2 separate regions of the Homo sapiens genome follow, and region 1 is linked to region 2. The links come from fine-mapping of genetic effects on gene expression. A gene starts in region 2. The other region holds a variant in brackets. All regions are shown on one strand. Distances are between the middles of the regions. Region 1 overlaps EGFLAM (EGF like, fibronectin type III and laminin G domains). Region 2 holds the start of EGFLAM (EGF like, fibronectin type III and laminin G domains).

What was found. PIP is the estimated chance that this variant, and not a neighbour inherited with it, causes the effect.
Region 1: its variant is fine-mapped to the expression of EGFLAM in lung (TOPMed, PIP above 0.99).

What each region holds. Positions count from the first base shown.
Region 1 is chr5:38,367,798-38,373,174 of GRCh38, forward strand. It overlaps EGFLAM (EGF like, fibronectin type III and laminin G domains), which reads left to right. Exons shown (of 22, transcript NM_152403.4): 6 at 2,499-2,665. Among named protein-coding and RNA genes, the nearest start is that of EGFLAM-AS2, 33 kb to the right of the region's middle. The variant C/T (reference allele first, on the strand shown) is at 2,202.
Region 2 is chr5:38,255,533-38,260,909 of GRCh38, forward strand. It overlaps EGFLAM (EGF like, fibronectin type III and laminin G domains), which reads left to right and starts at 3,027. Exons shown (of 22, transcript NM_152403.4): 1 at 3,027-3,319. The coding sequence starts at 3,223. It overlaps LOC124900966 (a long non-coding RNA gene), which reads right to left and starts at 3,134. Exons shown (of 2, transcript XR_007058739.1): 1 at 3,062-3,134; 2 at 1,565-2,099. RefSeq lists an enhancer at 1,657-2,158.

The DNA of each region.
Region 1 (5,377 bases), 110 kb after region 2:
TGAAGAGACTCTAAAAACACTCAAATAAAAAACTCATGACAAAATCAGAGGCAAAATGTTAAAGGTTTTGAACAGGCATTCAATCTGCATGAGCTTGTCTCTCTCACTCTATAGAATAAAAATAAATGCTAATGATTTAATCTCTTGTTTGCTGGAAATAAGAGTTTTTCTTTTCTGCATTAAATGGACAACATGTACAAAATCATCTTTTTGTTTTGCTGTAGTTTTTACATAAAGATTGTTGCAGGTCTTTGCAGGTAGTCCTCGGTAAATAACAGCAGACTGTGAGAATAGATATGGGTTATTTCCTCTATAAATATCACAAGGGAAGCTTAGCAAACGATAGCAGAGAGTTTTATCTAAAGATCACATCTTTTCTGACTTTACTTTTAGGTATCCCCTGTGGTTTTCCTCTGCGAAGTGATTTTGTTCTAATTTGAGTTTGTAAATGTGTTTCCTTCCACTCACCGAGGTTTTCTCTTCGATGATAAAGTTAGTTTACATGAGAATTCCATCTTTGGGAAAAGAATATCAGGAAAGAGAAACCAGCCCTGCTTCCTCCATGGGCATACCCTGTGAACTGTGCTTTTCCAAACACGTTAACACACTACCCCCAGCTTGGTGAGCTTGAGGAAGCATCATTTATTGGGCATAAGGACTCCATCTGGCTTTCAATCATTCCTGCTAATGAAAAACTGGGCGAGCTCACATTAAGGAAATCCGCTGTTCACCCCGGCATCTTCTTTTAGCAAAATGACTCTCTATTTCCTTGCCTGGTAAGTTGCTCCTCAAAGACAAACAGAACTTTTTTGTTTCCTGCCTTCCTCTAAATATCTGTGAGCAGAGGTGTTTAACAACAGAACACCTGAGAGGTGGCCAGGGAGCAAGCAAAGGGATGGGGAATCGTCTGCCGCCCACCGTCACTCCCCCTTTTCATCCAGTATTAAGGGTCTTGTAAATCTAACCTCATCCTACCAATCCAAGTGGGCCTCACCATTTATCAGCTATGTGACCTTGGGCAAGTTACTTACCTGTTCAGTGCCTTAGTTCCCTTCTCTGTCAAAGAAAAAAAAAAGGTGGAGTGTTTAATATTAGTACCTACTGCATAGGGCATTTTTGAGAAGTAAATGAGTTAAGGTATTAGAATGGTGCTTGGTAGATGGAAAGCCCTTGACGTTATTAGCCATTAACACAAAGCCTCTCCTCCCCTTAGGCCATTCACACTGTCTGCAGGCCATGCACAATTATTTCCAACTTTTATCTTGTAGTTCTTATTACCTGGAATGTTCTTTTTTTCTCCCCTCCAGCTAGGATGTCCACATAGAGCAGTGCTATCCAGTAGAAATACAACGCCAGCCTATTTGAAAGTTTACGTTTTCTAAGAGTGGCATTTAAAGGGCAAGAAGAAAGAAATGAAATTAATTTCAATAATATATTTTAACCCACTGTATCCAAAATATACTCGTTTGAACATATAACCCATATAAAAACTATTGAGATATTTCACATTCTTTTTTATTTTTCTTTAAAATCCAGTGTACATTTTACACAATAGCACATCTCAATTCAGACACATTTGAAGTGATGACTGACTACCACATAGGGTAGTGGTACCATATTGGATCATGCAGGTATAGAGTAAGCAGGCAGCTATAAGTTACTAGTTCTGTGAAGAAGTCCCTTGAATAATGTCTGGTACCTGCTGAGTGTTTACAATTTGATGCCAGGTACTAGGCTGGAGATATATATCTTATTTAATCTTTATGGCAGTCCTCTTAGGTAGATCCTTTTATTATTCTCATTTTACAGATGGGAAAACTGAGTCTTAAAGGAATTAAGTAGCAGCTAGTAAGTAGGAGAGTCAGGATTTGAACTCCAGAGCTCATCCTCCCGCCTTCTGTGTATTACCTCCCAGATGGGAGCTCTAAGCAAAGGTCTGCCTTCTCTGAAGGGCCCTCCAAAGGACATGTAAAAATTCAGCACATTGGCGTAGCTGTATAATTAAGACTAAGAATGTCCGTGAACAGATTCTTCTTGGGTTTTCCCATGACAATTCATGCAATTAGTCACCCTATAAAACTTATATTTATTTTGTGAACAGATTGTGAATAGACGGAATCTGTGTTCTTCTGACCTCTGGGGATGGGGACTGCCAAAGGGAGGATTGTTTGTGAACATCTGGAAGGCAGAGTCCTTGAAAG[C/T]GAATTCCTATGTGAAGATCTTTTCATCATAGTGAGGGCCTTGCAAGGAAAAACGGATTGTCTTTAAGTAGTGTTTACAACTGACCCTAAAAATAATCTACTTGTTTTTATCGGCAGGGACTTGCAAATGATGACTTGTGATTTCAAATCAGGATTACTTTCAGATAGGAAATGTTAACTTACTTTTACAAGTATTGCTTCCAGAGTTCAAATGCTATTAGTTTACATAGCCAGCTAGCTTCCCTTCCCTCTGGTATTTCTGAACTACTGCTTCTTCTGTTTTTCTAATCAATAAAGGCCAGATTTCGACAAGAAGTGGACCTCAATCCATGAGCGGATCCAGATGGACTCCATGGTTATCAAGGGCCTCGATCCAGATACCAACTACCAGTTTGCCGTGAGGGCAATGAATTCCCATGGCCCCAGCCCCCGCAGCTGGCCCAGTGACATCATCCGGACCCTCTGTGAGTACCAGGGTCCTTCTGAGGGACCAAGGGAGCTGCATATCTGGGCTTGCCTCATGAAGACTCACTTGACCTGGATGCCGTGCAGAAGGACAGCCTGGAAAAGGGCTAACCCCAGGCTTTCCTCCTGTGGTTTTCCCAGCCCTTTGGAAGTTAGAGGCTGTCAACAGGGACACGGGCTGTTTCTATGTCCTGGAGGTCAGCAGAGGATTTATTTTTGCATCATCCTTGGGAAGTTTGAGGTCAGTTTTCTTTCACAGTCACACAACAGACCACATAGCAAAATGATATGCAGCCTTCCCCCTCCTTTTCATATTTTGAGAAAATGAGTTAATCTTAGAACCATAGGAGAAAAAACTAAGGCCCCTGGAGGCTTCAGCGTTCGTGTTCGCCTGAAAATAAAGGATATTCAAACAACATCAACTCCTCTGAATGATGGTCGAGGAGTATCAAAGAAGTTGAGCGCTGACATGGAGCTGGGGCTGTAGCCAATGGTGTATGTTCTCATAGTGCCTAGGAACACTTGGGCCAGTGTTCATCAAATCACCTGGGGGTTTTGTTAAAGTCAGATTCTGTTTTTGGTGTGGGTTTTAACAAAATCCCCCACAATGCCAAGAACCATTCTTGGATTGGCAAAAGCTTAGAACACTTTGTCAAGTCCAGCCCATTTTAGACGTTTTTTGTATTTGGGGAGTGGAGGGTATATTTCTGTAAACTCAGAACCCTGTGTAGCAGGGAGAGTTGAGAATGAAAATGTTGGCACTTTTTTGTTTGAAGATTCTGATCTTTTCAGTATTGCCAATACATTCCTCCGGTAGAGCCCGGCTGCTCCTTTGGGTCCTCTTTACCCAGAAAATGTGCTGTCAGAAAGGAAGCAGCACTGGTAACTGGCTTAACCAGCCAACATGAAGCCCTGTTTTTATTGGTTAGCAGAGCTGAATAATCTCCTCTCCTCACAAAGCACCCACACAGCTGACATCCAAGGCCACTGCTGTGTTCAGGGGTAGAGATTCAGGAGGTTCCCCAAATCTGAGGAATTTTGGCTCCTTTGAAAACAACCTCTACCCTAACCTTGAATGTCGGGTCGCCTTTTGTCAAATTAAATTGTTGGGTTATATAGGGAGGCTATACTCCAAAACACACACATGCGCACACACACATACACACACACACACGCACACACATATGCACATGCTCGTGCACCCTATAAGTACTATTGATCACCCAGGAAAAAAAAATGTTTTCACTCTTCTTCTTTAGAATTTAGAAGCTTAAACTTCCCAGACACATTCCAAAGGCTGACGGCATTCTTCCTAGAAGAAATGTTGATGATTCGATTTAAAGGAAGGCCTTGTTTGATTACTCTTTGGCTGAACTTTATGGAATAGCAGGAGCTAGGGGCCGACAGTACTTTGAAACACTGAGTTCGTCTTTTTGCACTACAAAGTGAGCAGCCACTTGGTGCTGTGTCCCCATCCACCCTCCCCATGGAACTCCTGCTCCCATTTCGTGAGCTGCTCCAGGCTCACCTCTTTCAGTCTGTCCCTTAGCTTTCCCTTCTCCGTAGAGTCAAGAATGTAGAATAAAGATGAGATATAACAAGCACATGCTGATTTAGATGTGCGCATAGAGACTGGAGTCAGGGAAGGATGGGTGGGTTGGGGCACCTCTCATACTGCTCCTTTTTTTTTTTTTCTTGACTCAGAGACTCACTCTGTCACCCAGGTTGGAGTGCAATGGCGCGATCTCGGCTCACTGCAACCTCCGCCTCCCAGGTTCAAGCAATTCTCCTGCCTCGGCCTTCCGAGTAGCTGGTATTGCAGGTGCCCACCACCATGCCTGGCTAATTTTTGTATTTTTAGTAGAGACGGGGTTTCACCACGTTGGCCAGGCTGGTCTCTTTGGCCAGGATGGTCTCGAACTCCTGACCTTGTGATCCACCCTCCTTGGCCTCCCAAAGTGCTGGGATTACAGGCATGAGCCATGACGCCCGGCCTCATACTGCTTCTTTTTTAACGGAAACACTGATCTGGTCTTAGAGTTTCTGATTATAATTTCCCCATTGCTGGATCCTGCTTTTCTGGATTGAGTGGATAAGTTATATGAAAGTGTTTTACAGATCTGTGAGATTTTATTATAATTGGCCTGTTATGTGAAGTAAAATTTTAAAATTTCAAAGTAATTGTGGGTAGGGAAGGTGGACAAAACCATGCTAAGTCAATGAAAATTCTCAGTTATGAAACATTCTTAAATAGACATAATTTTACACTTCTAGGTATACACAGTTACTCAGATCAGAATAACAAAATTTATTAGATGACCTGTTTCATGAATACAAAAGCATGTGCTATAATTAGTATTTCAATCGTGGTTTTTCTCCTTGATCACTTCTGACATTTTGGAAAACCCTTTATTCTAGGATACATTTATATTTTTTATTTTGGTATTGGTTTAGACTATTATTTTGCTTCCAAAACATGATTTTCCCATACATAAAATTACCTAATTATCAAATAGCACTATCTGAATTAAATTAAAACTGTTAAATTTTAATTTAACAAATTAACAAATTACTTCAAATTAATAAATTTCAAATAATACAAAATACTTCAAATTAATACATTTGAAGTATCAGAGCTACCATTGGGAAGATGTACTATGAGCCAGGCAATGTGCTGGGCACTTTACCTACAAAACCCATTTAATCCTCAC
Region 2 (5,377 bases):
TCTATTCCATGCAGCAAAGGTCAGATTCCTCTTCCATGATAATGAGCAAAGTAGGCAGGTCACTCTTCTGCTGGTGACCTTATTAATTGAGTTTAGACCTCCAGTGAATTTGAACAGATTTTTTTTTTTTTAATGAAACATTCAAAGCCTCTTGGCCCCTCTTTAGTTCCCCTCCTCTCAGAAAGCAGGAAGAGAGTGAAAGGCAAGTGTTCTATTTGTCTTTAGTCAGATTTACAAATGCCATAGTTGGTTTTCAAACTGGAAGGAGAGGGAATCTTCCAGTTCCCTTGGAGGATGCGATTTGAACTGCAAAGGAAGGGAATAAGTTTAATGTAACATGTGCTCTAGATTTGAAGCAGATTTTGTGAAATAAGGTCTTATCTCAATGGCCTGATGATCCAGAGTGTTTGCAGGCCCTCAGAGGTAAAAATACAACAGTATAATCTAATGTTGTTTTTCCCCAAGGAAAAAACAAGAGGGGTCTCTGAAGAAACCAAGCCTATTTCCCAAATCGCCTATGGTCATCTGCAAAAAAATGGAAGGGAGGCCCAGGGCCAGGGATGCCGAGGTGGTGTGGGCACATGAGGAGGACATTGGCAAGAAGGCTGCCCAGGCTTGCGAAATTTGCAGTGGACAATTTGCACAGGGTCTGTTAAAAGGCACATGCAGAGTAAAGGTAGCTTAGATTAGATGATGCTGTTTTATCAGCTATTAAAGAGAAAGCAAAACCTGGAATTTACTGATTGTTTCGTCCAGCCCATTCATTTTTACCAAGGCACACTATACGCAGAGCCTAGGATTAAACACCCACATCTCCCGATCCTCTCAGTCCACTGCTGTGTTTACTTTCCACATTGTTCTCTCAAAAGCCTGAAAGCTGGAATCAGACCCCTTGGATTCAAGCGCTGCATGGGAGCTGCATGACCTTGGGCAAGTTTCTTAACCTTCCCATGCTTCAGGTTCCTCACCTGTAAAAGGCGAGAATAGTAATGACAGTATCTTCCTGGTATGGTTGTTATTGGGATTAAAATGCACTTCAAAGAAGGTCTGGTACATAGGAGACCTTAAATAAATGGTAGCCATAATATCAACGATTATTATTACTTCCAGTTTCAGCATCACAGAGAATCATTTTTAAGTAGGAAAGCCTGCATGGGAGGCATCTGCATTGCAACACTCGCTTGGTTCTGGGTGCCACATTAAGTCCGAGATAAGAAATCACTTTCGCATAAAGAAAGGCCTCTAACAACTTCTCAGCTGGCGCTGGAGGAGCTCTCTCACACAGGTGGAGTTCAAAGGGAGGTGGCACGACCCGACACCAATGCTGAAAGCAGACTCCTGCGTGGAGTGGAGGCATGGCCTAGATGACCTTTAAAATGCTAAAAAGTCTATGATTTTGAGACCTTTGAGACTAGCAGCCTTGGGGGCAGTCACTTTGCTTAGCTTAGTGGCCGGCTTTATGGTCACCTTGGACGTGAAGAGCATAGTTCTGTCTGAACTTTGCTCCAGTTCTATGTAAGAGGACAAGCTCTGGTGTCACAGCTAAAACTTCCAAATACTCAAGTTGGAGGGGACTTTGAATTTATTTGTGAACAGACAATTGCACACTTGAAAATGCCAACACATAAGGGAACACACTCAGCTTTGCTAACTAACAAGATTGAGCTCATTACAAACTCTCCAGCCAGGGGATATTTCATTCTTAAAAGAGGAGTAGAAATCCTGTGTGTGTGTGTTTGGGGGGCTGGGGAGGGGAGAAGAATATATCAGTCAACATTGTTTCCTCCCGCGCTCCCAAACATAGGCTAACTGTGAAGAGCCAGGACGCCCACCGAGTCCTGGCAGCGTTGCAAGGTGGGGAGGGGGCGGGCGCGGTCCTGTCGCTAGTGACTGCAGATTTCCTCTGCGGGGCACTTCCTACGGCCTTTGATCTTTCCCCAGGAACTGCCGAGGGCCGCGTTTGCCTCTAAGTTTATTCCCTCTTGGTTTATTTATTGTATCTGCTTTCTCTTCTCGCTGGTTTGGAGGTCAGAACGCCAGTATGCAACGGGACTTGTGTCCCAGGCAGGGTCTCCCCTCTCCAGGCACTACCGCGAAATCTGGCAAAAGGTACATTTTACTGAGTCCTAGGGCAGCAAATTCAGCGGCGGAGAAAGAGTCTTTCTCCATTCAGGAGACAACCCAGGAAGCCCGATCCCGGGATCAGAGGCCAGGACCCCGCCCCGGCCCCCTGCCCCAGGCCCAGCTGGGCGCCGCCCAGGGGCTTTTCTCGGTCCGCCTGGGGGCTCGAGCTCGCGTCCCTCCCTAAGACGCCAGGCTTAACTTGGAGTTTCATCTCCTCCCCAGGAGGGTCTCAAGTTGCCTTCCTCTGCCGGGAAGGGCCCCCACTCCCCCGCTCCAGGCCCTAATCTCCACCCGGCGTCCCAGTCTGAGCGGCCTGGCCTCAGCTCTCCATCTGCGAGCCTTAAATCCCATTTATCTTCTTAGCGCCTCAGACCCGGACGGTCCCGCCTCTCTTCCTCTCACCCCCACCCCACTTGCAAATCACAGACCCCCGTCTACCCCTCGCATCCCCCAAGTGCGCTGGACCAACTACAGCAACCTTTGAGGTGTTAGAAAAAGTCGCCTAGAGGGGCGCGGCAGGAGGAGGGCCCAGGTGGGGTGGAGGGGGGGCGCCCCAAGATTTCAGGGTGAGGACCGCGGAGGGTCCTGGACCCGCAGTCGCCTAACTCCTGCCCTGCGTCTCCAGTGCTTGAAGTCGGTCCCTCCCAGGTCCCCAATCTAGGTCACCAGCGGGGAAGGGCTGCGCTGGGGGTCGCTAGAGAGGGTGAGGGGCGGGCTGTCTGCTTCCGAGGTGGGCGAGGAGTGAAGGTTTCAGGGCCTGTCCCTCTCACTTCCACTCGATTGTAATTTCATCCCCGGGCCGGTCGAGCCTCCCTCCCTCCCGCGGCCAGCCCTTCCCTCCCAGTCGGCCTCCTTCGTCGCCCCCGCCCCCGCGAAAAGCCCTGCAGCTTGCAGCCGGCTTCACTCGCGCACGCCGACCTCCCGGCTGCAGTCCTACCTCTTGGAACTACCCGTGTTTCCGGGCCCAGCCCTCGCAGCCCCCCACCTCCTCGCCCCGGCCCGGGGATCCGTTGGGGCCGCGTCCCCCACGCGCCCCCGGAGACGCCCTTTCCGTGTGCGCCCGGGACTTGGTGAAACTTTGCAGGCGCCGGCTGCGAAATGGATTTAATCCGAGGCGTCTTGCTCCGGCTCCTGCTCCTGGCTTCCAGCCTCGGACCCGGCGCGGTGTCGCTCCGAGCGGCCATCCGAAAACCAGGTAATGCGCTCCTCCGCCCAGAGCCACCACGCCCCGAGCGCCCCTGCTGGGCTCCGGGGCGAGGACACAGAGCGGGCAGCGCACCGCCTCCCTCTCCCCGACCAACGTCTGCTTAACTCGCTTCAGCTCTGCCAGGAGCTGAGAAAAGACGCAAACCTCGCCCTCCCCCGAGCCCGGGCGGCGCTAGGGATATTTATTTATTAAAAGAATGATCAATTTTCCAGACATAGTAGATAGAGGTGGTGGTCCCCGTGTTTGACCGCAGAGAGCTGACAGTTGGGACAGCGATCGTGCTGTCTCAATTACAGAGGATGGCAACCATGCAGAGGAGTCAAACCAGCCCCTCCTGCGTCTCCAAACATTTTACTCAATTCATATTGTCCAGAGCCCAGCCATTTCCTGTTAAGTGTCTGAAGGGTTGCCTGGAGCCCCCTCTGCCCATCTCGGGTCCTGCCCACGCGTTGTGCAGGGATGTGGACTCTGCTCTTAGCATCCTCTTCCACTCTGGGGCCATTTGTTCAGAAGGAAGCACCCAGTGGGTTAATTTTACCGTGTTTTGAACTCCTGTCTTTGCTTTGGCATTTAAACAAAGAAATGTACGTTGTAACCTGTTATAAGGGACTGGGAATTGGGGGAGAACTTGAAACCATAATAACGTGTGTTTCCTCTAGCTGCATATAGGTAAAAAGTCTTCGTTTATTTTGGTCTACTTTGATTTGGCCTATGCTGTGAGATTATTCAAAGTAGAACATTCTGAACAATGAAGTTCTAAACATTGTTTCCCAAATAACGATTTTTATTACTTTTTGCTGGGACCATATTTAGAATTCTGAAAAATCTGTTTTGTCTTAACTTACTTTGTAAGGGAGGTTGTCTTATGGGATTAATTATATCTTATGAACAATGGAAAACAATATTACTTTTATTTGAATGCAGTCTGCAAAACCTCACAGAAAGTGCAGTTTGTCTTCACAAACGTTTCTGTAAGAAAGAGGCAAAGCTAGGAAAATTTATCAGAGGGCAGAGAAAATCGTCTTAGCGGGATCCCATGTGAATGCTTAAATATTTTCGCATTGAAACTCTCTATCTGGAAATATGACTTGTTGCATTTCGGCTCTGGAAGCGTCCTCAGTCTTTGCACTGTGTCTCTTATTACCAGCACTTGTTACCTGCCTTGAAATCTAAGGTCATTATCATAATCTACACCATATTTAAATTATGAGCCACTCCATTTATGAGCTCTTCAATTCATTTTGGAGATAATAGCTTCAGTCCAAGGTAATATCACATTAAATTGTTTCTCTTCCTGCACGCACACATACATATACCTTCAAGGATTTCAGTGAAGGGCTTCTTTCTAACTTTCCTCCTTAAGATAACCACATCACGATCAATTGCATTTTGCAGATTTATTCACATGAAATCATCTATTAATTGTCACAATTTTTAAACAAAGCATAGTTATATCTATAGTTTTAAAGCATGAACAGTGTATGCAATGCTTTTTAAAGGATATATTTTAATCCATTTAAGGGGAATTTTTAAAAAGCATTTTATAAAAACCTGTTGTATAAAACTGCTCATGTGGGTCATCATATTTTCCTTCTTATTTTTTGGAGTTCTTCTCCTAAAAAGATTTTCTACCTGGTTCATTCAGGGTCTCATTCTGATATTCATGCCAGGAATATGCCATGCTGGCCTCTTTGGTTTTATTTGAAGCATAGATAGGGTTTTGATAGTGGAAACACCACCTCTTAAATACTTTGGCATATTAATTACATCAAATTTGAGATAGAAGTGTTTAGACTAGGTTCAACCTAGAAGAGTTTTATTTTTATTACTTTATAATTTTATCCAGACACTAGCTTTCAGGTTGGAAAGCTTCTCAGATTAAAATGACAGCTACTTCATAACTTCAGGGGAAATTTCCCTCCTGGGCTCATTTACATCCCTTGGAAAGACTAGTTTTTGATCCGGAAAATTGGTCCAGATTAAAAAACTGAATGTGCCCTGCTTGGCTCTGATGTGAGCAGCAACTAGCTAATTTATAATCTTCCC